Linked DNA regions of Homo sapiens. The protein of the gene in region 3 interacts with the protein of the main gene of each other region in a pairwise test. Each region holds a gene or a part of one and is shown on either strand. Other genes may lie near its edges. The genes, in order: GPSM1, LONRF1, TASOR2 and CFAP206.

What was found.
Region 1: the proteins of TASOR2 (region 3) and GPSM1 interact in binary tests that used the Homo sapiens proteins (3 or more experiments, as listed by UniProt).
Region 2: the proteins of TASOR2 (region 3) and LONRF1 interact in binary tests that used the Homo sapiens proteins (3 or more experiments, as listed by UniProt).
Region 4: the proteins of TASOR2 (region 3) and CFAP206 interact in binary tests that used the Homo sapiens proteins (3 or more experiments, as listed by UniProt).

What each region holds. Positions count from the first base shown.
Region 1 is NC_000009.12:136,351,527-136,358,550, forward strand, and holds part of GPSM1 (G-protein-signaling modulator 1), read left to right. Parts: intron 1-1,509; exon of another isoform or gene 1,510-1,629; intron 1,630-3,255; exon of another isoform or gene 3,256-3,496; intron 3,497-4,163; coding exon 4,164-4,320; intron 4,321-4,815; coding exon 4,816-5,024; intron 5,025-6,487; coding exon 6,488-6,694; 3' UTR 6,695-7,024. UniProt on the Homo sapiens protein: Guanine nucleotide dissociation inhibitor (GDI) which functions as a receptor-independent activator of heterotrimeric G-protein signaling.
Region 2 is NC_000008.11:12,752,503-12,759,515, reverse strand, and holds the start of LONRF1 (LON peptidase N-terminal domain and RING finger protein 1), read left to right. Parts: upstream 1-3,989; 5' UTR 3,990-4,095; coding exon 4,096-4,816; intron 4,817-5,067; exon of another isoform or gene 5,068-5,575; coding exon of another isoform or gene 5,576-5,603; intron 5,604-7,013.
Region 3 is NC_000010.11:5,680,826-5,687,843, forward strand, and holds the start of TASOR2 (protein TASOR 2), read left to right. Parts: upstream 1-4,012; 5' UTR 4,013-4,350; intron 4,351-4,791; exon of another isoform or gene 4,792-6,590; intron 6,591-7,018.
Region 4 is NC_000006.12:87,403,286-87,410,974, forward strand, and holds the start of CFAP206 (cilia- and flagella-associated protein 206), read left to right. Parts: upstream 1-4,686; 5' UTR 4,687-4,804; intron 4,805-6,549; 5' UTR 6,550-6,554; coding exon 6,555-6,662; intron 6,663-7,299; coding exon 7,300-7,383; intron 7,384-7,689. UniProt on the Homo sapiens protein: Essential for sperm motility and is involved in the regulation of the beating frequency of motile cilia on the epithelial cells of the respiratory tract. Required for the establishment of radial spokes in sperm flagella.

The DNA.
Region 1 (7,024 bases), on a different chromosome or scaffold from region 3:
GGCTTTCTAGAAAGCACAGCCTCTGAGGGCTTCCAGGCTTCACGTCACCCCAACAAACTGCCCTGGGTCTGGGCCAGCAGGGCAAGGGGACACAGTTCCAAGTGTCCAGCTGCCTGGCCCAGCACTCTGGAGGCCTTGGCCAGGGCCCCAGGGAGCCCCCACCTGCTGCGGGCCCTGCTCCCCTGGCCCCTGCAACCACCGCGGGGCAGGACGCCTGGGACAGCCAAGATCCTGGCCCCAGACAAACGGGGTTCCCAGGGTCTGTGAGGACGTGGCAGGGCCTCTTGGCTTTCTGCTGACCTGAACCCCACTGGCCTTACCGAGGTCAGAACCTTGGGTACCTCCGAGTAAGGACCGTCTGCACCCTGGTGGCAGCCTGTATGGGGACTGCAGCGAGGGTGGGTGGGGGATACATCCCTGGGGCGTCAGTGGCCGGGTGGGCCCCCTTCCCCCTCTGCTGGGGTCCTCAGGGAAGGGCTTTCAGCTCTCAGTTGGGGTCCTCATCTGCAAAGTGCAGCTGATACCAATACTGCGCCGTTGCTGTTGGTGACACCAATACTGCGCCGTTGCTGTTGGTGACACCAATGCTGCGCCGTTGCTGTTGGTGACACCAATGCTGCGCCGTTGCTGTTGGTGACACCAATGCTGCGCCGTTGCTGTTGGTGACACCGATGCTGCGCCGTTGCTGTTGGTGACACCGATGCTGCGCCGTTGCTGTTGGTGACACCGATGCTGCGCCGTTGCTGTTGGTGACACCGATGCTGCGCCGTTGCTGTTGGTGACACCGATGCTGCGCCGTTGCTGTTGGTGACCAACCAGCCCCTGCCCCTCCCCACCCTGTGCCCAGACAGTGCAGGGGCCTTGCAGCCAGCACATTCGGGGCTTTGGGATCTGAGGCGGTGTGGCTGGGTGTGGTCTGGGGGTCCAGAGAACTCATTCTGGGGTGGAGGGTAGGGGACAGGGCAGGGTTGGCCTCAGAGGCTGGAGACAGTGTAGGTCCAACCAGGAATGAGACAGAGAGGCAGCAACCAGAGGCTTGAGTTGAGCTGGCCGGGAGGCCCTTGAGCCAGGGCACTGGGGAGCCACCGAGGGCTGTGGGACAGGAAGGGCCGTCCCGGACAGAGGAGTCCAGATGAGGACAGCAACCCGCCCAGGTCCTCTGCGCCTGCCTCCGTAGTCAGGCTGAATAAAGAGGTGGCTTTCCCCACCTGGCCCAGCTCTGGAGGGAGGCCCAGGGGCCCAGGTGTCAGCGGGAAAAGGGCTCTTCGGCAGGCTGTCTGCCCACACAGCCCTCCAGTGTGCCCGCCCACAGGCACGGGGAGGGGGAGGTTCACTGCTGCACTTGCTGGGGGAGTGTTTACGGAGTGCGCCTGTGTGTGAGTGCGAGCCCACGTGCGTGTGTGTGAGCCTGTGTGTGTGCACGCACTCAAGTGAGCAGGGGCGGGCGCTAGGAGGGCCGAGCCCTTGCCCAGGGTCCTATTTAAGCCTCAGGCATCCCAGCATTGAGGCAGCACTTGGCACTTTGGGCAGGGCGGTGGTGGCCCTGGGCACCTTGTGTCCTGCCTGCGCTCTGTGTGGCCAAGCACCCAGCGTGGCTCCCTGCTGCTGTGGAGACAGCCTGTGATCCGCGTGAGTCTGGGGTCCCTGGGGTCCTAACAGGTGGAGGCTGAGGGAGCACACGGGCCTCTGTGAAGCCGGGTGGGGTGGTCTTGGGCCGGGTGCATTCCCCTCCTCCGCAGGAGAAACTGGGCTTGTGCCAAAGCAAGAGAGACTAGAGTCAGACTGCAGGAGGGACTCTGAGGCCTCCGGGAAGGAGGGAGCCAGGGCTTGGGGCAAGGGAGAGGTTAGAGCAGGGAGGCGGAACCCCGAGTCCCACTGGATATGTTCTACTGGGACATAAATGCAGGGGAAGGTGGCCTTGGGGCCCAGGGTCCTGCTTCTGAGGGGCTCCAGGAGCCCCAAACTATCCAGAGCCTTTCCCCGTACCAGGCACTGAGCCACGGTTTTGCACCTGCAGTCGTGGGCCCCTGCCCCCATGTGAGGGAGGCATCAGCCCCTCAACAGCTGGCCCCAGCCTCAGGGAAGGGGAGGGCTGCCCGACATAGGACCCTGAGAGGGGCTCTGCCATGGGGCCTGGGACATGGCCCCTGACGGGTCCTGCCTTTCCCAGGAGGGACCTTGCTCAGTCCACCTGGGCCCCGGGTCACCTGGGGGAGTCCAGATTGGGCCAGAGGCAGAGGCCCCCCGCGGCTGTGCCCTAGGTCATCATAGCCCAGGAGCCAGTTCCTTTTAGACCAGGAGGCCACATCCTCCTGGGGAGGTACCTGTGTGGCCCCAACTGGCACTCAGGCTGGCAACCCCAGTGCCACCCTCTGCCTGGACCTGCAGCTCCCAGAGCCCTGGCCCAAGTGGATGTGGCCCTCCCCACAGACTGGGCCAATTCTCCCCTCCCTCCTGGCTGGGGAATCCGGGGGAGTGGGGGTGTTGCCTTAGGCCTGAGCCAGGCTGCAGGAGGAGAGCCCTGCGGGGAGAAGGGGGTGCTAGAACTCTCCCTCCTCAGGTCTGCCTCAGGGACAGGAGGTACCTCAGGCTTCCGTGACAGCTGGGGACTGACTCCAGGGGCCAGAGCCAGGTGGGGTCTCTCCTAAAACAGGGCTGTCCACAGGGCCCTCGGCTCAGCTCAAGGGTCTGAATCCCAGCTCTTTTTTGCTCCAGCATGACCTTGGGTAGGTCACACATGTCTCTAGGCCCCACTCTCCTGTGCCCTGGGCCGAGTCCAGCAGAAAACTGGAAGCAGGACGGGAGCCCTAGTCCTGGGCTGTGGGGGTCAGGTGTCGGGAATTCCAGTTGTCTGTCAGACAGCTGTCCGTCTCCTGGGCTGTGGGGGTCAGGTATTGGGAATTCCAGGCAGCATCGGGGACCCGGGAGGTGCCATCTCCACCAACATTGCGTCTCTTGTTAACTCGTTCAGCTGTGAGCCCAGCATTTGCAGACCTGGAAGAGGCCACCAGCCGTGAGATGGACAGGCTGGGGCCGGGCAGGGGCTGCCAGCGCCGGTCGGGAGGTGGACGGGGCTTGGAACCATCACAAACACCCTTCAGCCCTGGGGCCCGGACCAGGCCCTGTGAGGCTGGGTCACGGGGTGGACCTGCTTCAGCTGGGCCCCTTGGGGGGCCACAGGAGACCACGCCCTCCAGCCTCCCTTGTTTGGGTGTGTGGACTGAGGCCCAGGGCGGGGTTCATTCCTTCGAGTTCATTCACACAGCAGACACCGGTGAGGGCTGTGTAGGGCATGGACACAGGGAGCTCATGGCAGGGCTGACACAGGGTGTGGTGGGCACAGGGACAGGAGGCACGGGAGGCTTCCCGGGATGTCTGGGAAGTGTTCCAGGCCAAGGCTGGGGAGGCTGGCCCAGGGCAGGTGACGGACAGAGGCCTGGACTGGGGTAGCACCCATGAGAGGGGAGAAGTCCGGGGCAGTCGGCGGGTGCCGAGGGTGAGTGACACGTCCTGGGGGAGGGGTAGCCGGGTGCCGAGGGTGGATGACACATCCTGGGAGAGGGGTAGCCGGGTGCCGAGGGTGGTGACACGTCCTGGGGTAGGGGTAGCCGGGTGCTGAGGGTGGGTGACACGTCCTGGGGGAGGGGTAGCCGGGTGCCGAGGGTGGGTGACACGTCCTGGGGGAGGGGTAGCCGGGTGCCGAGGGTGGGTGACACGTCCTGGGGGAGGGGTAGCCGGGTGCCGAGGGTGGGTGACACGTCCTGGGGGAGGGGTAGCCGGGTGCCGAGGGTGGGTGACACGTCCTGGGGGAGGGGTAGCCGGGTGCCGAGGGTGGGTGACACGTCCTGGGGGAGGGGTAGCCGGGTGCCGAGGGTGGGTGACACGTCCTGGGGGAGGGGTAGCCGGGTGCCGAGGGTGGGTGACACGTCCTGGGGGAGGGGTAGCCGGGTGCCGAGGGTGGGTGACACGTCCTGGGGGAGGGGTAGCCGGGTGCCGAGGGTGGGTGACACGTTCTGGGGGAGGGGTAGCCGACAGGGGGCAGGTTAGAGTCCCGATCTTGGCCAGGGTCTCAGAAGTGTGTGTGGCCTGGGCAAGCAGCCCCCGGTCTCGTCTGGGGGTCTGCGGGGCTAGCTTTGGCTGCGGTGACCCCACTCCCTCCCCAGAGCATCCCGAGGGCCCCGTCTTCGGACGAGGAGTGCTTCTTTGACCTGTTGACCAAGTTCCAGAGCAGCCGCATGGACGACCAGCGTTGTCCCCTGGACGATGGCCAGGCCGGGGCTGCCGAGGCCACGGCCGCCCCCACCCTGGAGGACAGGATCGGTGAGTGCCCCCCTCAGCCGGGCCCTCCCTTGGGCTTGTCTGCAGGGGCCAGGACCAGGGCTCCCGTCCTGCTTCCAGTGAGGAGTTTTCGGGGGCAGACCAGCAGGCCAGCTGCAGAGCACCCTGTCACTGAGGGCGCCCTCCGCAGCCCCCACAGAGCAGCATCCCGGGAAGCGTGTCATCAGCCCGCCCTCCGGGACACACTCAGGCTGCAGGGGCAGTCTCAGGGAGGGGGCAGGGCGTGGGGGACTGGCGTTCTCCTCCTGTCTCCTCCTGTCACCCCCTGGAAGCCCCTGAGGTGGGCGTGGGAGCCACAGCAGGGGGAGCAGCTGAGAGCTGCCTAGGCCGGTCAGCGGAGACTCCCCCAGGAGCCATGGCCCCAGCAGCACAGTGGGCTGGGCTGGGCTCAGAGGTCAGAGCTCACTGTGGCCGCAGCCCGAGCCTCGGGCTTGACCCCGCACTGGGTCCCAGGTCTCACCCTCTGGCCCCCCGCAGCCCAGCCCTCGATGACGGCCTCGCCCCAGACCGAGGAATTCTTCGACCTCATCGCCAGCTCCCAGAGCCGCCGGCTGGACGACCAGCGGGCCAGCGTGGGCAGCCTGCCGGGGCTGCGAATCACCCACAGCAATGCAGGGCACCTCCGAGGCCACGGCGAGCCCCAGGAGCCGGGGGACGACTTCTTCAACATGCTCATCAAGTACCAGGTGGGCTGCGGCCCTGGGCGGGCGTGGCTCGCGGCCCCTTTGCCATCCACGTGTGTGGAGGCAACTTGTGTCCTGAGGGGTGAGGTGGGCGCTGGTTCTGCCATCTCCGGTCATGTTTGAGGGACTCCTGGGGGACTCAGCCAGTGTCACCACATGACCAGGGGTGTCTGAGCCTGAAGCCCTACTCCTGGGAACCCCGGGCTGCTGGAGACACCAGAGACCCCCCCTGGCAACCCCAGGACACTCCCAGGCTGTGCCACCCCCCTGCCATGCAGGAACTCGGGGTGGGGGCTGGGGGGTCACAGGTCCTGGAGCTCATGGCCTCAGGGATTCCCCACCAGCCCTCCACACCCGGCAGGGAAAACACGGGCCAGATAGCACCCCCAGAGTGGGGAGGGCAGGGGGATCCAGGGCTGCCAGCTGGCTGGTGGGACAAAAACAGGGACCATCCAGGGACCACACAGTGGACGGCATGGGCGGAGGGTCCAGCCCCAGAGGGCAGAGCCAGGGCCGGGGCTCCAGCCTGGCAGCCACGCCAGGAATGACCTCCTCATCTGTGTGGGGGTGAGCCAGGTAGGGTGGCCGGAGTGGAGACTGCTGAGCCAACTGCTATCCCAACTAGGACCTCAAACTCTGGGGGTCTCGCCATCCCTGTGGGGTGCAGCCATTGCTGGGAAGGGGTTCAGGGTCCGTAGACTTGGGAACAGGCTGGGGGTGGAGGCCGCTTGGCCCACCACGAACCAAGCCAGCACGTTTCCAGGTCTGCCGTCCTCCCCACAGCAGAGAGGAAACCTCGGCCCGGGGCCAGGCGTCCGACCAGCCACCTCCAAACCAGCCCCACCCAAGAGGCCCAGAGTCCCCCATCCACACGCATGCCTGCGCCAGCTCCCGTCCCTCCTGCTCCAGGCGCTTCAGAGAAGCCCAGACAACCCCTTGGCCCCCTGGCCTGCACACTGGAGCAGGCGAGGCCCACGGGGTCAGCCACCTGACACAAGGGGAAGCCCTGGGGGGCGCCACACTTCGGGCTCTGGAAGCTGAGACCTCAGGCCTGCCAGGGTCAGTCCCAGGCTGTGCTGGTTTCCAGGGCTGGGCAGAGGGACGGCCACGCATGCCCGTCCCTGGGGATCAGCAGATGTGGGGAGCAGGCATCCAACGCCGCCCTAGCCACTGTCTCCTGGGCCTGGCACACCCATGCCCAGTGGGAATCGCTGGACCTGCTTTTCCTGGGCGGGCCTGCCCTGGGCTCCTGCGGGTTGGTGGCGGGGCCACCAGAAGACTGCGCTCAGGGCCCGGGCTCCCAGCACAAGACCCCAGAGCGAGGCAGGCCCCAGAACCAATTTCCTGGGTGGACAGGGGGAAGCCCGTGAACAGTGCACGCTGGCCTCTGGAACCACCGCTGCTGACCAGCCCCGGACCACTGGGGCTGGGGGGGTGAGGCCGCCAACTGCACTGTGTCCACCCAGTCCTCCAGGATCGATGACCAGCGCTGCCCGCCACCTGACGTACTGCCCCGGGGCCCTACCATGCCGGACGAGGACTTCTTCAGCCTCATTCAGAGGGTGCAGGCTAAGCGCATGGACGAGCAGCGGGTGGACCTCGCCGGGGGCCCGGAGCAGGGGGCAGGCGGCCCGCCCGAGCCCCAGCAGCAGTGCCAGCCTGGTGCGAGCTAAGGCCCTGTGCCCACCGCCAGGCCCACCCTGCCCCCACTCCTGGACGCCGGTCTCACAGTCACAGCCACGTCCTCCCGAGGCCATTGCCGAGGACAGGCACTGGGCATGCAGCCCCACGGCCTCCCCGACCCAGGGCGACAGGCTCAGGCCAAGCTGCCCGTGGTGGGAGGGCGTGCTTCCATCCCGGGCTGGCCCCCATGGCCCTCAGCTTCCTCCCTTCTGCCCCTGCCGCAGGCCGGACGGGGCCTTCGGCATGTCGGCCCCGACCTGGTGCTGTCAGACTCCCGCATCCTCTCCCCCAAGCCCTTCCCGTTCTGCCCTGCCCTGCCA
Region 2 (7,013 bases), on a different chromosome or scaffold from region 3:
TGGTAGTCCTTGCAGGCAATTGGCTTTAGACTTACACTTCGTATCAGCTCTATTTAACCTACTCAGGTTGTCCTCATTAGGGCTTTTCATTTGGAACGCTATTATAGCAATCATATATGGTATTTTTAGCATCTTATATAAACTTTCGCACAAATGCCCAAGTTATATAATCAGCTCTCCCTCGGCCCCCCCACCCCCGGCTTTCTTTCAGCTTCCCACAGTTTTACAGTAGGGGCAAGGAGGTGTGAGTGCAATAGGGGATCCCTGTACAGTGACTGCAGGTGTTCAGGTCTCAGAAACTGGTTCCCCCTCTCTAAACAGGGATGAGTATGTACCAACAAAATGTGTTCTTGATACCCTTCTCTTCTATTCTCAGCCCTCATCTGCTGTTACATTTTCAGCAGGTATCACATTGCTGTGTTCCTCAGTCTGGGAGATGCTCTGCCTCCTCTTACTGTGTTCAAACCAAGCCCTGGGGCTTGGCTCCAGAGGCAGAAGGCACCTTAGAGGTAGTTGCAGTTCCCTCTTTCTACAGATAGCAAATGAGGCCTAGGGAACCCAGGTGACTTCTTCCCTGGCATAGAGGCATAAATAGAGTCAGCACCAGGTGTCTGGATTCCCTCGCTGGTATGACTTCTATGAAACTAGCAGCTTCTCAGATCCCAATTTTCTTATATATATATATATATATATATATATATATATATATAGAGAGAGAGAGAGAGAGAGAGAGAGAGAGAGAGAGAGGGGTATGAAAAGGTGGTCTCTAGAGACCCCTCCATCTGTGTATTCTGTACAAAAATGCTATTGGGGACCAGGCGTGGTGGTTTATGCCTCTAATCCCAGCCCATTAGGAGGTTGAGGCAGGGGAATTGCTTGAGGCCCGGAGTTTGAGACCAGCCTGGGCAACATAATGGGGCCCGCCTCTACAACAAGTTAAAAAAAAAAAAAATTGCTGAGCAGAGAGGCATGCGTCTGTAGTCCCAGCTACTCGGAGAGGCTGAGGTGGGAGATTGCTTGAGCCCAGGAGGTCAAGGCTGCAGTGAGCTATATACTCACTATGCACTGCAGCCTGGGTGACAAAGTTAGATTGTGTCAAAAAAAAAAAATCTATTGGCTAGGTACTGTTTATATAAAACGTTATAGTTTACTCTCTTTGAATAGAACATTATCAACTGAAATGAATCAGGAATGGGACATATTTTGCTTGGACTGACAAATTCAGTTTCTTTTTTAATAAGAATGTAAAGAAACAAATGGTAAATTCACCCACAGCAAAAAAAAAAAAAAAAAAAAAAAAAAAAGAGGTTCAAATACACATCTTCAGCTGAGTTGTATATAAGAAAAGCACTGTGTTATGTTACTCTTAAATAGGAGTTTACCAAACTATATCAGGAAAAGTCTTATGGTGTGGCAGTGGGAGGCAGGGATAAGCAGGCAATGATGGTGATAAGCATTTTCCAAATTAGGAAACAGATACGCTTTTCTTCTGACTCTCTTACATAACTGATCTATTTTAGAAGACAACACTCAAAAACCGAAACAGAATACAAATCTCATGATTTTACTACTTTGTTAGCAAAGAATGACACGAGCAAGTAATGCGGAAGGAAAAGGAGAGCTCTTCACTCCATTATACTTCTCCTAGCCAGGGGCAGCTTAGCAGGATTCCCTCTTCTCCATCACAGCCTGCTGGGTGACTCAGAGACCTGTCTAAATTTTAGGAAATGAACGAAGAAGGACACTAATTTTTCTCGCCTTTGAATTTAAACAAGCAGTCACATTATTGTGCAACTTTTGGATGGCAGAGAATGATGGAAGGGTGACCTGTGACAGTGCCAGTGACTGCTTTGCCTAGACTTCCTGATTCAAAGGGAAGTTATGCAGCACACAAAGGCCACAGCGGCAGTACAGCCTCTTACATAAATAAGTTACATAAATGAGAACAAGTTATGTAAATGCATAAACCAGCAAACATGAATTATAACCATTCACAAATGCCAAGGAGAACACGGTAAGATTCCTCCTACGGTCCCATTTTTTTCTCCCGCACATTATCATAATTGTGCCATTTTATTTCACATCAGAATCAGATGTGGTTGTCATATTTATTAGGAAAAGGAACTCCAAAGGACAAATAATACTTCACATTATTTTCTGAACCACATATTGTACTTTTGGCAGAAATCCCATAATAGAACCTGACTTTATATTTGAAAAGAAGTTTATGAGTGTTTATTAATTTACTATGCTCCTTGTAATAAACATGAACACATTGATTACATATTTACTGTTGTAAATTTTGCAACATGCCATTAAGAACAAGGATGCGTTACAAAAATGAATGTGCGTGTACACATGGATATTTGTTTGTGATTTCAAGTCTCAAGGGAGTATGTGGACATCAGCTGAAAGTCACTGTTCTGCTTGTTAAGGTAGTAATTTAGGGGTTAGGATTGGATTTAAGGTTATGCTCATGACTTAATCCCAATGCTTCCCATGCCAAATGCTTAGGAGGTGCTCCTTGGATCTAGCTGCAATTTGCTTCAGGTGCAATGTGAGTGATAAATGAACTTGTTTCTGTCTGCATCCTGTTGGAACAGGAGGCTTGGCTTTTTCTCAGGCACCTCTTTTTTATTCATTCCCTTTAGGGTAATATAACTCTGTCTTTTCTGACGTTACACGACTTGTTGATTGTGTAGTGAAAACACATGAACTCAAAACATTTTTTAGCCTTAATTGCCTGTTCCTTATAAAGAGAAATATTAAACGTTTACCAATTTCATACATAGCATGCTCAGGTGAACTTTCCAATTAGCAACTTCTTTTACTTTGAAAATCTCATATATTTCTATGAAATATTACATATTTTATTAAATATTACATATTAGTCTAACGTAGTAGTAGTGGAATAGACGTGATCTTAAAATCTGTATTAGCTGTGTGATTTTTGACAAATAACTTTCCCTGTGTTTCCAATCATTTGAAAAAGGACTAAAAGTCCTAAGTGACTTCCAACATTAGCGATCTAATACCCTATCATCAAATCTGTATTTTCAGCTGAGAGCTTTAAACTTGCTGCTGTGAAGTTTAAGGGAAATAGCACCCATTATATATCAACCCGATCATTTTCTTCTGTCAGCAAAACTGCAGAGCCAGCTTGGGTTGTAGTAATACGGTGACCGCCATGTGAAACATGTTTCTTGGTGTTTTCTTTTAAAACTGCCAAATATAGACCTTAACCAGCTGTAAGGCAGTGCTTGAGGTGTGGAGACACCTGAGGAAGCTGTGGGCTTTCTCCCTCGAGGTGGGCCCACGATGAGTTTTAAGCAAGACGGGCAAGCAGTCACCTGGCACCAGGAAAAACTCCTTGCCCTCTGGAGGGAGTCGCCCCAGGAACGTGGGTTTTTTGTTCATATTTAAAGTTGAGTCCTCTAGAACCGAAGAGTCCCAGTCATCTGCCGAAGGTGCGCTCCCAGGCCCCCTGCTTGGGCGCGCCCACCTGGAACATGGGCGTAGAGCTATGAAAATGCAGACCCGCACAAGCGCGAGGCCACGCGGGGAGACCCCCGCCCGCCAGGAGTTGGGGCAGGTCCGGCCTGGGCGGGGGCGTCGGGGGAGGGGTGGTGACCCGGAGTCCCGCGCGGCAGGGGAGCGTCCCCCAACCCCCGGCAGGGGCGAGGGCCACCGCAGGTGGCGGCGTTGGCAGACAGGCAAGCGGGGACTGAAGCTCCGGGGTCCTTCCGGCTTTGTTCCGTCACGAGCCGAGCCCTCCTTTCCGGAGAAGCCAATTAGATCTCCGACGGAGGAATCATCCGACCTGCGTCCCCCACCCGGAGGGGGCTCGGAAGGGGCGGGGCCCAGCGCTTGGCTCCTCGGGAGCGCGGCCGCGGGCGGCGTGGGGGAGTCCCGGGCGCCGTCGCCGAGCCCGGCCCCGCCCTCGCCAGGCCCCGCCCTCGGGGCTTCCCGGGCGCGCGCAGCCCCGCCGTGTCCGCGCGCCACGCCCCCCTGCTCGCGGGCCGCGTGCGGAGCCGCGCGCCCGGGAGGCTCCGGGACCGTGGCGGCGGGCGGCGGCGGCGCAGCCCTCCGCGGGCCATGTCCTCTCCGGCGGTGGCGAGGACCTCCCCAGGAGGGAGTCGGGAGATGGCCCCAGCGCCGCAGGGCCGAGGCCGGTTCTGGGAAGTGGGCGGCGGCAGCGGCCATCGGCTGGAGCGCGCGGCCGCGGAGTCGGAGCGCTGGGAGCTGCTGCTCCGCCGCGGGGAGCTGCTGGCGCTGGGCGGCCACCTGAAGGGCGCGCTGGAGGCGTTCGCGGCGGCGCTGCGCCGCGGGGCCCCGGCCAGGCCCGAGTGCCTGGGCGCCCTGGTGGACTGCCTGGTGTTCAACTACCGGCTCCGCCACGGGCTGGGCTGGAGCGCGGCCCCGGTTGCAGGCGCTGACGGCGGCGCCGGCGGGCTCCTCAGATGCCTGGGCTGCCGGGGCTTCCTGAGCGAGCCGGTGACCGTGCCCTGTGGCCACAGCTACTGCCGCCGCTGCCTGCGGAGGGAACTCCGCGCCCGCTGCCGCCTCTGCCGGGACCGGCTGCCGCCCGCCACCGCCAGTGCCACTGATGCTGAAGGGACCGCCCCGCGGCCGCCGCCTCTGGCCGCCGCCATCGCCGCTTCAGACTTCAGAACCAGCGTCGTCCTCAACCACCTGGCCGAGAAGTGGTTTCCGGGCCAGCGCGAGCGGGCCCGGGCGGCCGGCAGGCTCGGGGAGCTACTGCACCAGGGGCGCTACCGGGAGGCCCTGGCCGCCGCCTGCGAGGCGCTGCGAGCAGGTGACCGCGCGGGGATGCGGCGGGGCCGGGCCGACCGCACCCTCCTGGCCCCGAGGGCCGGGGACCCGGAGCTTGTCTGCGCCCCGAGAGTCTCCTCTGCTTCCCCGGGGCCGCTGGGCCGCTGGCGTGTCGGGTCTCGGGGTGCTGGGGGGTGTGGGAGGGGGCGGCGCCCCGGGGTGCTTCGGTCATAATGGGGATCGCCCTGGGAGCCGACTGTGACGCGGCGCGGGGAGGGGCGCTCGGCGCGGGGTTCCCTCGGCCGCGGCCTGGCTGTCGGGCGCGCGCTCCCGGCGCGGAGTGGGTGACCTGGACCGAGGCCGCCCCGGCGCGGGATGGGTGGTAGCTGGGCTATCCCGAGCGGCCGCTCGCTTCCTGCCGCGCGCTTTCCGGGAATTGGCTCTCGGGCCGGGCCCGCCGCGGGGAAACGACTGCCGGGGCGGGGAGAGAATCCCCCGCGAGGGCAACTAGGCCGGGCAGGCGGCGTCTCCCTTCCTCACCCACAAAAGTCACCGGGACAATTGGGAACCGCGGGAGGGCAGAATTGCATAAGCTGGGGGCGGGGGGCGTTGTGTAACGGGTGACGTCCGGTGGGCGTGGCGGGAGCTCCGCGCGGGCGCCCGGCCCCGGGAGGCCCTGCAGGCCGCCGGGCTTGGGGCTTGGGGCGGAGCTGCCCAGGGTGGTCCCTTGCTACCTGGAAATGCCTGAACTGGTTCCTCTTGAAAGTTTCAGCTGGCCTGTTTCAGATCCTGCTTATTTCCTATGTACTTTGCAGTGCACCTAGCTTATGGTAAAGATGAGAGGGGCTGCCTGATCCATAGTTCTCTGCCACGCTTCTCCTGGCCTTTCCACTTAGGATCAGGCTGTGGGGAAAGGCCTTATAGGTCTTGAGTGCATTTCTTAGTCTCCAAGAAGCAGCCTCGGCCTCCTAACCTAGGTTAGCACTTTCTTCTTAAGGTGGTTTTAGGCGCTGAAAGGGGGCAGTTTCAAGCTTCTCTTACGTAAAAGGAAGAGTTGTTCTATATAAATCAGTAGTTCTCTACCAGGGGGATTTTATCTCCCCTCTCTCAGGGGGCATTATTTAGAACAATATCTGGAGAGATTTTTGGTTGCCACCTCTTGTGGGGGTGGTGCTGGTACCGACATCTAGTGGGAGAGGCTGGGGTGCTGCTCAGACATCCTACTAGGCACAGCAGGATTCCCACAACAAAGAATTATCAGGCCCCAAGTGCCACTGTTGATAAACCTTGTGTTACGCGTATTTCAAGATCTTAGTGTCTATCCATTGGCATGAAATGATAGGGGAATAATCCCCAAGAAAACAGACATCTAGAATAGCAACTGACTTTAGGTATTACAGGTAAATTTATAGACTGTGTAACTGAAAGGATCATCTTTCGGGTCATCTTTTGTCCCAAGTGCTTAGTCATATTGAACTAATGTCAAGATCTTGTGTTGTTTAGTATCTTTAGAGTTCGAAGCACAAACCCCGGAGATTTTTGTATTCTTTCAGTGCCTTCGTGAGGAGTAGGCAGGTATAAAATAGAAAGGTAGGCTCAGAACAAAAAAAAAGTATTTGGAATACAGAATTCTGATACACATGACTCTGCTTCTCTGGGTGAATAAAGAGAAGAGAAACTGGACTCAGTTGTACAGACCACCTAGTAACTGACCATGGTGTGATTTTTAAAGCGAGGAAGCAGATGCCAGGCAGTGAAGACTTGCACACCGTCACACTGTTAACTGGTAGAGAGGCAGTGCTGTATCTTCCGCTTCTCCTAAACGTTGGTCTAGGGTTCATCCTGCCTTATAGCACATGTTTAGTATACATATCCAAGGAAGTTTTTTTGGTCACTGAGGCTGAACCTTATGGACAGTACTGCTGATTTAGTGATCTGACCTTGAATTAGGGGTTTCACAAGAATCCAGGTCCTGGTCCATGGAAGAACAGTGAGCACTTTTGATAATTGAGGTCTAGCTTAACATTCTGTGACCAATAATATTTTAGTTAACAGAGATTCTGGTTCTTGGATCGAGGATATTATGTTTAACAGGAAAAGGCTCTGAAAGATGTAATCTCTCTTTTTTTCAAGTTGCATAGATTGCACATGAGGATTTTGCCCACTTAGCAACTTCATTCTACTTTTGCAGGAATAGAACCCAAGTCTTCTGACTTTCACTGCATTAGCTTATTTTTTCC
Region 3 (7,018 bases):
GAACATTACATTAATGGAATGGCCTTGATGCAATAAGGAGAAAAGAAATACGAATTAGAAACAATGAAGTAAAACTATTTTTATTTGCAGAAAATGTCCTAAAAAAGCATAAAGAATGCACACATGTGCAAACAAATAGCTACTGGATATAATAAGTGATTTCGGCAAGCTACAAGATATAAAGTTAATATGGAAAAATCAATTTTATTTCTATATACTAGCAACAAATTATTGCAAAAATTTTTAGTACTATTAAGAATAACATCAAAAACAAAGAGATAAATATGACAAAATATGTGCAAGAGCTGTACACTGAAAACTATAAATATTGCTGAAGGAAATTTTTAAAGACCTGAATAAGTAGAATTTGACAATTAGTAAGATGTTAATTCTCTCCCAGATTGATATGTACATTCAGCACAATCCCAACCAAAATCCCAACAGGTTGTTTTTGAGGTAGAAAATAAGCTGGTTCTAAAATGTATACAGAAACTTAAAAGACTTAGAATAGATGGGCCGGGTGCAGTGACTCATGCCTGTAATCGCAGCAGTTTGGGAGGCCGAGGCGGGTGGATCACCTGAGGTCAGGAGTTTGAGACCAGCCTGGCCAAAATGGCGAAACCCCATCTCTACTAAAAATATAAAAAATTAGCCAGGCGTGGTGGCAGACACCTGTTATCCCAGTTACTAGGGAGGTTGAGGCAGGAGAATTGCTTGAACAGGGGCTGGGGGTGGGGGGCGGAGGTTGTAGTGAGCCAAGATTGCACCACTGCACTCTAGGCTGGGCAACAAGAGTGACGTTCCGTCTCAAAAAAAAAAAAAAAAGACTTAGAATAGCCAAACATACTTGAAAAAGAACAACATTGTATACTATGCAAATTCAAACCATGACACACCCTTCAGAGTGGCTACAATTCAAAAGTATTGGCAGGGATGTAGACGAACTAGAATTATCTTTGTGGAACTGTATAACTTAGTAAAACCAGCTTGCAAAAAGTTTGAAATGATCTGCTAAAGTTGAACATATGCCCTTGTTATTGCCACAATAATGCCCTATAATAAATCACCCCAAACTCGGTTAGCTTTTGATAACAGCATTAACTTTCAGAATCCTTGATCTTCAGGATGTCTAAGGCTCTGTTAATCCAAAGTGTGTTGGACTGTGGGTTGGTGTCACATCTGTTCCACATAGGTTTGTTCTGGAGACTCAGGCTGAAGAGACAACAGCTACGCGAGATATTTTCTCCACATATGAATCACCTGAGCACAGGAGCCAACTCAAACAGCACGAGCACACTGAAGAATCCTGCTGTGTCATGTCTGCTGATATTCTATCAGCCAAAAGACCTCTCTTAGACCAAGCCCAACGTCAATGAAGTAGAGAAGGAAACTTGGCCAACCGTGGGGAATAAGGGCATAAATATTTGCAGAAACAAAAATCTAAATTATCATGTCTAGCATTCCAAAATCCCAATCCTAGGTTTTCATCCAACAGAAATGAGTGCCCATGTACACCAAGAGATGTAAATGAGAATGATCACAAAAGTATTATTTATAATAGCCAAGAACTGGACACAGCCCAAATGTCCATCAATAATACAATGGGTAAAGCAAATGTGTTACATTCACGCCTACATATACAGCAATGAAAACGAAAGAACAAGTACACCCAAAAACACAGTGAGTCTCACAAGCAGGCACAAAATTATTCACTTTATATACAGTTCAAACCACAAGCAAACTAAATGATAAAGTTTCAGGGTGCATATTTAGTTGGCAAACTTACTTTTAAAAGCAAAGAAGAGAGTACCATGGAAGTCAGAATAGTGCTTAGGCTAGGGAAGAGGGATGGGGTACTGGCAATGTTCTATTTCTTGATGGGGGTGTTGGTTTCATGAATATTTGCCTTGTGATAAATCATGGAGTTGTACATTCCGGTTTTGTGCACTATTAAAATGTTGTTGTACTTCACTCTCTACTTCCACAGTCAGCCTTCTTCTGTTCTTGAATAGGTTTCATTTCACTTCTCAAGTCCTTTGCACTTGCTTTCCCTTCTGCCTGGAAAGCTCTTCCTCCACGTATTCCAAGCTTTGGTTCTATCAGTTTTGATCTTTAGGGTTTGACCTCAGATGTGCCCATTTCAGTAAGATCTTGTAGCTCCACTACTTCTGCCCTTGGCCTCCAGCCCCCAGTCCCATCCACTAGCATTTCCAGTGAGTTTTCACAGCATGTATTGTTATCTGAGATTCTATTTTCTTGTCGTGGTGATTTACCTGTGTTTGTCACTCACCTCTGGAATAAATTCCATTATAGGCAGGGTCCTTATCTAGCTTGTTCATGATTGTAAAACCAGTGTCTATTACAGCACCTGGTTACAGTAAACAGTAAACACAATGACTGAATCTCTTGGTATTACCAGCACAGTGCTTGACTCATGATACATGTTCATTAGCACTTAATCTCTCTCATTGGTACAGTCATATGTCACTTAATGTTTCAGTTAACAACAGACCACATATCCAACAGTGATCTTATATGATTATAATAGAGCTGAAGAGTTCTATTGCCTAGTGATGTCGTAGCCATCTTAATTTCGTACAGCAACACATTACTCATATGTTTGTGGTGATGCTGGTGTAAATGAATCTACTGCACTGCCAGTCATATAAAAGTACAGCACACATGGCCAGGCGCAGTGGCTCCACCGTAATCCCAGCCCCCCAGTGGGACAAAATGGAGGTGAAGACAATGATGTTGATGATCCTGACCCTGTGTAGGCCCAGGTTAATGTGTGTTTGTGTCTTAGTTTTTAACAAAAAAGTTTAAAAAGTAAATTAAAAAAATTTTTAAATAGAAAAAAACTTACAGATTAAGGATATAAAGAAAATATTTGTGTACAATGTGTTTGTTTTAAGCTAAGTGTTATTACAAAAGAGTCTTAAAAAGTTTTTTAAAAGTTTTAAAAAGTTAAAAAGTTACAGTAAGCTAAGGTTAATTATGAAAAAATTTAAAAAAATAAATTCAGTGTAGCTTAGGTGTACAGTGTTTATAAAGTCTACAAGAGTGTACAGTAATGTCCCAGACCTTCACATTCTCATTGCTCACTCACAGACTCACCCAGAGCAACTCCCAGTACTGCAAGGTCCATTCGTGAGAATGCCTTACACAGGTGTACCATTATTTTTCATACTGTATTTTTATTGTACCTTTTCTATGTCTAGATATGCTTATACAAATACTTACCATTGTGTTATAATTGTCCACAGTATTCAGTACAATAACATATAGCATGGGTTTGTAGCCAGGAGTAATGGGCTATGGCTTATGGTGTAAGTATGTAGTAGGTTATGCTTCTAGGTTTCTGTGATGTTCACTCAAGGACCAAATTGCCTAATGAGGCATCTCTCTCATAAGGTGTCCCTACAGTTAAATGATGTTTGCATGACTATTTATCATGGGCAAGGGTAAACCTGAATTTATTGATGGTCACCTTAGCTCTCTGTGCATGTGTTATAAATTTCTAGAGATGCTTTCCTAGGGGGTAACAGCCACACCTACTATATGGATTAAAACAAGGGCAAAATTTCCAAAATGTCGCATTCGGGCCAGACAAATAAACTGTTCTTGCAGCAGCACCTGGGGAATGAAACGCTGAGAAGGGAGAAGGCGCCCGAAGGCGACCACGTGGGCCACAGCCACAGCACTGTAGGTCAGCCGAGAGAGCGTCTCCCGCCTCTTCCCAAGGGCATCTTCCGCCTCCTGTCAAGGGTCGGCAACGCGAGACACCACGCGCTCGTTGGGATCGGCCGCCTAATCAGGAGCGAGCTGTGGCCTTACGCCTGCGCAGAGGGGAGACGCGAGCGCCGCGTGGACGCTGACCTCGGTCCGCGCCTGCGCCTTGGTTTCTTCCCGGCGATTGGTTCCCATCTCTGAGGGAGACGCCTCACTTCAGTTTTCACTTTCTTTTTTTGCCCCCCCCTCCCCTTTTCTTTTCCTTTGGCCGCGAGGTTTTGCTTCCGGTTGCTAGCGCCGGTCAGAGAGAAAGTCGGCATGTTCTCGCAGGCTGCCGGGCGTCCCGGGGTTGCCTCTTGCCCGTGACCCTGACGGGAGACAGAGCGCGGGCGGCCGCGGCGTCCCTGTCAGCGCCCGCGGCGAGGACCCCGGGGCTGGGGCGGACGGCGTGCCCCTGAGGGGGGTCCCCGCGGGAGCGCGGAGCCGGCGACTGGTGCTTCCCACGTGCGCCGGTGTCGCGAGGGCCCGGGAGGACGCAGAGCACGGCCGGGAGAAGCATGGGAAGGAGGCCGAGCCGGGATCTCAGGTCCTCGGGGGCGGCGGCCACGCCAAGGACGGGTAAGTCCCTCCTCGGCCTGGGCGCCCGGGAACCCTGCGAGGAGGACGGCGGGTCCCCGAGGCCGAGCGCTCGGGCAGCTGCCGGGGCTTGGCTGCGAGGGTCGACGCGTTCTCCTTGCCTTTTGCCGCGCTCCGGGTGAGGGGGTGGGAGGGGTCGGCGCCTTCTAGATGACTCAACCTTCTGTCCTGCGCTACAACCTGTGGCCGCGCTCGGTGTCGCCGGCAGGGAGATCCTAACCGTGTCATCTTGCCCCTTTCTGAGGCGTTTCGTTTGCGTCGCCTGTCAGGGGACAGCTGCGTCCTCAGGGATATGCTGATAAGTTCTTGGCTGAAGTTTCCGTCTTCGGGTTTGCACCGGCTGGGAAATCATTTCCTGCGGGTTCTGCGTGAAGCCTGCTGCTACTCGAGACTTCATGGCAATGCGCCACCTTTTCTTTTTAGGGTAAAACAGGTCTCTCCGAAGGGAGGGTCATTTCAGCAGCAAGCGCAAGCCGCGTTGGGATAACTTGGTGCGAGCAACACAGAAGTTTGTCTGAAGGCGGCGCCAAGCAGCGTTTCGTGGGAGAACTGGGTTGATGACTGAAATTTTGAGGAAGATTACTTTGGGAATTCTCAAGTTTCTCTTAGTCGCTTCTTGTCTATTTGAAATCTGTAACTTTAAACAAACCACGCTTACTCTTCCTTATTCTCCCTGTAAGGTACAATTAGAATAGAAAAGTTTATGAAAGTGTATCCAAAACTTAAATATGTGGCGTACAAGTGTATGGTATTATTGGAATGGCATTCGCGATCCTAGAGTCTACAGTGTTCCCTGAATAAAACTAGGGGTGAGCCTGGCGGTAATCCTGCCTAGGAGGTTTATAGCAAAGCAGTGTCCCCTAACGGTGCAAGAATACCCTTCTGTCGAAAAACTGCCTTATAGGAATGGGTGACTGTATGCGGTATGTCCTGTACTGTACATCAATAAATAACTAAGCCAGGCCAGAAAAAGGGTGACAAAAGGTCCACAATTATGTTAAGGAAGACCAAGACGGTATATTTGAAGTTTTGTGTATACAGAACATTTGCCCAAATGTAACTAATTTTTTTAAAGGGAGATTATAAGCATCTCCTGTGGTCCAAACATAGTTGTTAAAATGGGTTAAAATCGGTGAAGTGCCTAAGAACTTGACTGAGACATGGTGTTTGTTAAATACAGTATACTATCTATTCAGTAAAAATAGATCAATATGGCATGTATTTATCAAGTGAATTTCATTTTTCTGTTGGTAGACATTCAAGTTATTTTCAAGATATCCCTATAACTGACAATACTGCAGTGATTATCTCTTGCTGTTATAAACAGTGCTTCAGGTGGTCATGATAGTATTTCTGTAGAATTGACTCCTTATGAGAGTGCTGGATAACCATGTTGCTAAATTGCCCTGAAATGATTGTACCTTTTTATGTTCACTCGCTCAAAAGATGTGTTTTTATCTCCATGCTAGCCAGCACTGGATGATAATGGTATTTTTAAAATATCTTAGCCACCTAGTAATTGAAAGTAACATTCTGTTTTAATTTTTATCTTCCTTGGTGAATACAAAAGTTAAATCTTTTTAGGCAGGTCATATCATTTGCTGATGTTTTTATTGAGTCTGAGCTCTCTTTTCTTTCGCCCATGTAACTATTACTGTAGCATTTTAATTATCATAGTTTTATAATATATTTTGGTACTTTCTTTTGAAAAAGAGCTTTGGGTTTTTCTTTTGCATTTTTTCTTCCAGAAGAAATTAAAACTATCTTTTTAAGTCCTATAGAAAATCTTGGGATATTGTTTGTGATGGTGTTGAATATATAATCTGAGAAGAGACATTTATTTGAGTTTTTCCTTCTAAGAGAATATGTACATCTCCCTTTTCTTTAAAAATTTTTTATTGTGAAATATGTCATTAATATGTACTGACAAAGCGTATCTGTGTAATAAATATGCTTTTTGTCAGTACATGTTAATGGTATATTTCATAACAAAAATTAATAAAAGCTTTAGAAACTTTAGTTAGTTTGGAAACCTTTTGTGTGTTTCTACCCCAGGAGGAATGCGTTCCCTGCCCCCCGTTACCCTGGCCATTATTAATTTTGTGTTAATTATTCCCTTGCCTTTTTAAACAGTTTTATCACCTATATAGATATCCTTAACTAGCATTGTTTACTCTTACCTGTTTTTGAACTTTATTTAAATAAAGTCATTCTGTATTCTATGAGTTACTTTTGTTAAACATTGTTTCTGAGATTCACTCATGTTAAAGCACGTGCCTATAGTTTAGCAATTTAGAAACTTTATTCCCAGGACCCCTCTACACTTTTTAAGAACCATTGAGGGGGCCAGGTACGGTGGCCCACGCCTGTAATCCCAGCACTTTGGGAGGCCAAGGCAGGTGGATCACTTGAGGTCAGGAGTTAGGGACCAGCCTGGCCAACATGGTGAAACACCATCTCTACTAAAAATACAAAAATTAGCCAGGTGTGGTGGCAGGTGCAGGTAGTCCCAGCTACTCGGGAGGCCGAGACAAGAGAATCACTTGAACCTGGGAGACAGGTTGCAGTGAGCCAAGGTTGTGTCACTCTACGGCAGCCTGGGTGACAGAGTGAGACTCCGTCTCAAAAGACTGCTGAAGATCCCAAAGAT
Region 4 (7,689 bases), on a different chromosome or scaffold from region 3:
AGGAGTTCAAGACCAGCCTGGCCAACATGGTGAAACCCTGTCTCTACAAAAAATACAAAAATTAGCTGGGCATGGTGGCACATGCCTTTAGTCCCAGCTACTCAGGAGGCTGAGGCAAGAGAATCACTTGAACCTAGGAGGTGGAGGTTGCAGTGAGCTGAGATTGTGCCACTGCATGCTAGCCTGGGTGACAGAGTGAGACTCTGTCTCACAACAAACAAACAAACAAAAAAACTAGTAAATTGCTTTTGTTGCTCTACATTGGTTTAAATGCATGGTCTAGCATGATAATGCTAGTCTGGCAATACGCTAGTTCCTGGTCAAGCCAACCATTCTTCAAGATCATGCTTGCTCCTGAGCTGCTGAATAATTTCCAAAGAAAATCACTTAACATGGCAAAATGCTTTCACTTTAAATTCATGATCCTGACACTCAGATGCACATTCATTACTTCTCAGTAATTACTGAAAGTTACTGAAAGTTTCTAGTAAGCCCACCCACTCTTCTACCCTCCCAGATGGTTATTTCCTATTAGCCTCTCTCCAAGGTTACCCAAGGTTCCACTTCTGACCATGATGGAATAACAAGGACTGGACTTAACTTCCTACCACAAACAACTAGAAAACTGGGCAAAATATATAAAACAACTGTTTGCTATTATTGCCCCCAAATTTCTGCCTGGAGGCAGTTTCCAGATCCTGGGCATAGAAAGGTAAACCCACTGCCTAGGGACTTTATTGAGTTGAGGAGACAGAGATCAGAGTTCACAGATGTGGAAATTGAAGGGCAAAGTTTTGGAAGGGATGAAGCTATACAAATAAATAAATAGAATTCATAAATCTGAGACTTTGCTAAGTACTTGGCTGTTCATGTATGGATTGACAATCCACACAGTCGAGCACAGAATGACCAGGGAGTATAAGCTAAATAATTCTTAGAGCTCACAGAGGATGAGAAGACATTTGAGCTCTGACCAGCCAGAGTGAAGAGTCCTCAGTGAAAACCAAGGAATTCATTGAAGACCTCTGAGCAGTTATTAATTAGTAGTAAGGTCAAATTATTTCTGGAATGAAGACTACTCTAGACCTACCCTAATAAAGCTTAAAAACAGTCCACAAATGAATCAAACTCATCCACAAATAACTGGCTGAAAAAAACAGCACAACCCTTCCTAAAGGGGGACAATTCAGACACTGAACAAGGATGCAATTCACAACGTCCAGTATTCAATAAAAAATTATTATTATTTTTTGTTGTTGTTGTTTGTTTTTGAGACGGAGTTTCGCTCTTGTTGCCCAAGCTGGAGTGCAATGGAGCGATCTCTCGGCTCACTGTAACCTCCGCCTCCCAGCTTCAAGCAATTCTCCTGCCTCAGCCTCCCGAGCAGCTGGGATTACAGGCGCCCGCCACCGTGCCCAGCTAATTTTTTGTATTTTTAGTGGAGACGGCGTTTAACTATGTTGGCCAGGTTGGTCTCAAACTCCTGACCTCAGGCGATCCACCCACCTTGGCCTCCCGAAGTGCTGGGATTACAGGCGTGAGCCACCGTGCCCGGCTCAATAAAAAATTATTAAACATGCTAAGAAGCTCAACTCATTTGAGCTTAAAACTTCTTAAAGCCTGAGGAAAAGGAAAAATATATAATTCTCTCTTTAAATGTTGAACAGTTTGTGACATATTAAAGATACTTAATCAGAAGAAATTAATTCTACAATATTCTTAAAGGCAATCTTTTAGCTTTTAGATAAAAAACATTTGATAAAATGGGTTTCACTTCTTCTAGGATGACTTCCATCACAATTCTATTTTAAGACTGTTTTATGTAGATTTGTAATCTGGTGTTTTGAAACAACATAAAACTTGGTTTCTCTTTTAACAAAACTGAGAAGAGTTCTCATGCCTTCTTTTTCTCAAGGTAAATATATCCAGTTCTCTCTATCTTATTCTGACAAAATTTTTCTTATTCTCTGGATGCACTCTGGTTCCTCCGTGTTTTTTAATTAAATGCCATTGCTGCCGTGTTAAAACTAGGAACAAATAGTTCTACAAAGACTAGAAGTCCAATAAACCATGGGAGTATAAAATATATTGTCATAGTTGATGTTGTCAATAATAACCATGATAAAGGTCATAAAATACTAGTTTCTAAAATTTATGAATCCTTTTATCTATGTCAGATGCTGTGCTAAGTGCTTCATGACGGCTATCTCATTTTACTCTCACAACTCCACGAGATAGATACCATTGTTTTGTTTTATAAATGAGAAATTTAAATCACTGAAAGGTTTATAAATGAACTCTTTCCACACTTATACTGTATAATAAGCCACTCAAAAACTCAGCGGTTTAAAACAATACTCATTCATTATCACACATCTACAGGTTGACTGGAGTTTGGCTGATCTAGGCTGGGCCCTAGTTGGGCATCTCTGCATCTTACTAAAAGATCGGTTCAGGCAATTCTGTGCCATATGCATGTGATTCTGGGACCAAAGAGCTTGCTTTGTATGTACTTCTCATGGCAATGATACAGGCACAAGAGAGAAAGCAGAAATATGGGGTCTCTTTAAGATCTTGGATCTGATTTGGCACACCGTTGCTTCACCACAACCTATTGGCCAAAGCAAGTCACATGGCTAAATTCAAAATCAAGGATTGGGGAAGTATACTCCACCAAAGTCCATGGCAAAGGTGTGGATGCTAAGAGGCATGAAGGATTAGGGAGAATAATTCAATGTAGCACAAAACGCTAAATAATACTTCCAAAGTCATACCCATTGTAGCAGTCAGGGATTCAGTTTGGCTGAATGTAGCAAAAAACCCAAATAATAGTAGCTTAATAAAATAGGAGTTTATCTTCTCTCATGCAAAGTCTGGAGATAGCCAGTCAAGAAGCTGATAGGGCTGTTCCATGACGTTACCAGGAACTCAGGTTCCTTTTTCATTTTTGTTCCACCATCCTTAAGATGTGACCCTCATGTTTATGTTCACAGCAAGGCTGCTGGAGCTTCAGCCAGCATATTCTCATTTCAAGTAGAAAGAAAAGGAAAGGCAATAGACATAAAATGGAAGTGCTTTCCCTGACACCTCATCCAGTGATTACACTTACATCTCATTGGCTAGACCATGTCACAGGCCACTCTCACTGAGAAAGAGGTTGAGAGATTTTTTTTTTTAAAAGAGAACACTGTCATTCCCAACACAGGGTTAAATTAGTAACAGAAAGAGAAGAAAACATTGACATTAAGTAGGAATTAACAGTATCAAACATACTTCAGGGAGTATTTGTGCCAGGATTTGCCCATTAGTTTAAAACTATACTTAATATGATGGTATTATTCTTACCATCTTAAAAGATATTTAATATTCTAATATATAATATATGCTCATGGAAGACATTTTGGTAGCTATCTTAAAGTATAAAGAAGACAAATCAGCCATAAGCCATTACAAAGTTACAACCACTGTTAAAATTTTGCTATCTCACCGTCCTTTGGTTGCTTTACCTTGTATACTTACAGTATATTTGTATATCTAAATTGGGTTCATTCTCTACAAATAGCCAGTCTCATCTCCCTTGTATTTTTAAATTTTGTTTTATAGATCATAAGACAATATATACTCATTATGGAAAAATCTAGAAAAAACAGAAAAGTATAAAGAAATAAAAGTAATTTACCTATAATTCCATCCTTAGATCTAATTGCTTGCTGTGATTTTGAAAAACTGACCTACACTTTTTGTGCATTATATGTATGTCAATATAGTTTAAGTCATATTATATAAAAATTTCGCATTTGGCTTTTAACAAATATAAGACAAACACAAGGTTTTTGTTAACATAATTTTAAATACCTGCCTGATATTTTACTTAAATAACGTGTTTAGATTTCTAAGGCTGTGCTATTATAAATCTTGTTACTCTGAACATCTATTTTTACACAAGCTTCTTCCACATTCCGGGAACATTTTCTAGAAGGCGGAAATAAAATTGTGTTATATTATGATGTATATTCTTGAGTTTTTGTGTTGATTCATTTCCTAGTAATCAGGGAATGTCCTTAAGCAAAGCATATTCTGCATATTTGTTTGCAGTTTGAGAAAAATTACTGTTTAAAAATAAAACCTTGTTGTTTGATGCTCTCCTTCTAATGAGTATTTAATCCTTTTTCACACTTTCACGTCTGAAGGTGGGCCTAACGATATTATCGTTAAGGGATAAAACCTCATTATTTTGACTCGGACACTAATGTGTTCTTATCATGTGCTTCTTGAATGAGCAGTTTTCTCTTCGGGCATCTTGGAGCGTTCTGTTACAGACTTCCTTTGAACAACGGGACATGAAATAAAACCTCGATACTTTTTACTTTTGTTTTTTAAAACTAGATACTTTTACAAGAACTCTATTTGCCCAGGATACAGCCCTTCCGTTTTCCCAGCCTCTCCAACTGGCTCCTCCCTCTCCCCCACCCCGCTTTCAAAGCCGCCTCATCATTCCCACGCTAGCAAGTTAATATCCTTATTTACGAGAACTTGTGTTTCACAGTCTTAACCACGGAGGTTAAGATGTCTCTGCCTGAAATTCCTTTGTTTTTAAAGTTTTTCCAGCCCATCTTTTGGGGGAAAGACCCTCAAAGTGGGACCCCGCCCCACCCCCACCTGGCCCCGCCCCCTCTGGTCCGGAGCCTTCCATCTCCATGGTTACGCGGCGGTGGCTGCGAGCGCCCAACTGCTCCGACCGTCGCGGTGAGGGCCCCAGGACAGAAGCAGACAGACACGGCTCCTGCTGTCGATTCCGATCCAGGTCAGCCTACTCGGGGCTCCGCGCCCTTGACCCGGAGGCGTACCCCGCCAGGCGGCGAGCTTGGGGCGGCTGGCGGAGCTCGGGCGGCTGGAGGACCGCGTCCTGCCTCGTCGAGACTTAGCTCTCAGTCTCGATCCTTTAGGCTGCGCCGCCGCAGAGCTGGAACAGCGGTCCATTCCTGCCGGAGGCGCCACCCCAGGGCTGCAGGGCTGCCCTCTAGCCTTTGCGCGGGTGCCTGAGGCCTCCCGCTTCTGTTTCGCTCCACTGGCTACCCCAGAAGCCGGACCTCGGGAGACTTAGTAATTGGAGGGTGGGTGCAGGGAAGGTGCTGAGCCGCGTCCCTAGCGACCCGGCAGCGGCGCGCATGCGCACACAGATCCGGAGCGCGCACACAGATCCGGAGCGCGCACACAGATCCGGAGCGCGCACACAGATCCGGAGCGCGCACACAGATCCGGAGCGCGCACACAGATCCGGAGCGCGCACACAGATCCGGAGCGCGCACACAGATCCGGAGCGCGACGGACTCTCCCACTGACTGGCACTTGCGCATGCGCTGCCTGTGATCTTGGAGTACTGATTATAAGCTGTTTTAAGCGATTCCCTTAAGCCGCGCACTGTTGTAACCACTAAAAACAGGACTAATTTAGTCCTCACACCTCTGGAAAGAAGTGAAGCAAGTGCCCAAGGTCTCACAGCTGGACAGTGGTCGGGTCACCATGGAATCCAGGCAATCTGGTTTCACTGGACAAAATGCCTAGTGCTTCGTACTCATCCATTGGAAAGCTAATAATGCTGAGGAGTTGGCTTTATCTACCTGATATTGCCTTTGTTATACTCTACATGCCAACTTCCATTGTGCTTAGTTACTGATATTCAGGAAAATCAGAAAACTCGATCAAAACCTACCACTTTTTCCTTATAGTAAATGCTTTTTTTTATCGAGAGTCTGAACTCTATTTTAGATGTGCGGAAAAGATCATTTTAATGATCTGAGCAAGAATTGTTTTCCAAGATTCTAGTACAGTTCTGAAGGGTCATTTAATGAATGTGGTGGAATAAGCATTTCTCCTTTTAAAGCTGTACTCTTGGGTTTCTCATTAATTTTACCTCCCTCCCCTACAAATACTGCTTAGCCTTTTTTTTTTTTTCCTGAGACACAGTTTCGCTCTTGTTGCCCAGGCTGGAGTGCAATGGCACCGCAACCTCCGCCTCCCGGGTTCAAACGATTCTCCTGCCTCAGCCTCCCAAGTAGCTGGGATTACAGGCGTGTGCCACCACTCCCGGCTAATTTTGTATTTTTAGTAGAGACGGGGTTTCTCTGAGTTGGTCAGGCTGGTCTCGAACTCCCGACCTCAGGTGATCTGCCTGCCTTGGCCTCCCAAAGTGCTGGGATTACAGGCGTGAGCCATCGCGCCCAGCCTGCTTAGCCTTTTTTTTTTTTTTTAATTAAGAATATCATGATAGGAATATATGTTTAGTGACCATAATTTAAATAATTGAAAATGTTATTTATCAAATGTTTCAATTATTTGAAATCCCAATCGTTGTCTGTCTTCAATAAAGTCCTTCATTTTTAAAAATAATGAAAAACAGGAGAGGCCTAGATACTAATAAAAATGCTAATAAGCTAATAGATGATATTATGACTGTTTACAAATACAATATTGCAGAAATCAAAAGAGGAAAAAAATAAATTTGCATAAAACCACGGTTTTTTTAAAAAAAATTGTTGTTTTATTTAGCCAGAATGCCTCCAACTCAGGCCGAAAGTGTTATAAGGAGTATTATACGAGAAATAGGACAAGAATGTGCAGCCCATGGAGAGATTGTTTCTGAAACTCTGATTGCTTTTATGGTAAGAAGAAATATTTTTGTGATTACTGTTTTATTAAGAGGTTTTTTAAGATGTGGTGTCCATTTTCCCCTTTAAATTCTGTGAGGCTTTCATAAATGTTTTTCAGTTGAAGCATAACGAGATAATTGGACAAATTTGTGAAAACATTTTTAAAAAGTTTATAGAGCATGTGAGTTCTAGATTTATAGAGACATTTAGAAGACCTTGATGAGTTTTGGAAACATCAATAATGTTCTCCTGTGTGGGAATTTTTTGACGTGTATTTTTGTTTGCCGTTGTTAAAAATTACTCATTGCTGTGGTTTCTCTGTTCTTGCTTTTGGTTAACAATACACAATAAAAATACAATAAAATATGCCATAGTTTCCCAATTGAAAACCTAGCCATTGCTTTCAACTTATTTCCCCATATAACTTTTCTAGCACCATATTCAAGTTTGATGTTTGTTGCTTCCTTTTTTCAACCTCTAACAAGGGTACTGATGAGTTCAGTAATAAGAAGAATAGTTGGAAAACCAACCCCAACGTAATCAAGAGGTAGTTGTTTAAAAAATGGAAACATATTAAGCTAATAATATGAAATAAAATTGCTTAATGGATTCTTTCCTAGTTAATGGACTCGTTCCTACTTTTTTCTAGGTGAAAGCTGTTGTCCTGGATCCAAGTAATGGCTTTAACATGGATAGAACCCTCATGAAAAGTGATGTGCAGAATCTTGTTAAGGTGATTACCCAACAGTCCTCAAATTTGCAATTACTTATTCTCAGTTGTAAATACAATATTTGTATTAGTCATTATTGCCTTCAGCTGCATGAAACAAAAGCCCACAAAATAGTAGTATACACGAGATATTTTTCTCATAACACAAAATCTGGAGAGACATAGACCATTCTTCCTGGCTTCCTGGGGCACACCATCCTTGCAATATGGTCATCTGGTGGTCAAAAGATAGCTACCCTGCCTCTAGGCAGAAAGAAGGGGGAAAGACAAAGGGCAAAATATGTGTGCCAATTGGGTCTATCACCTTCT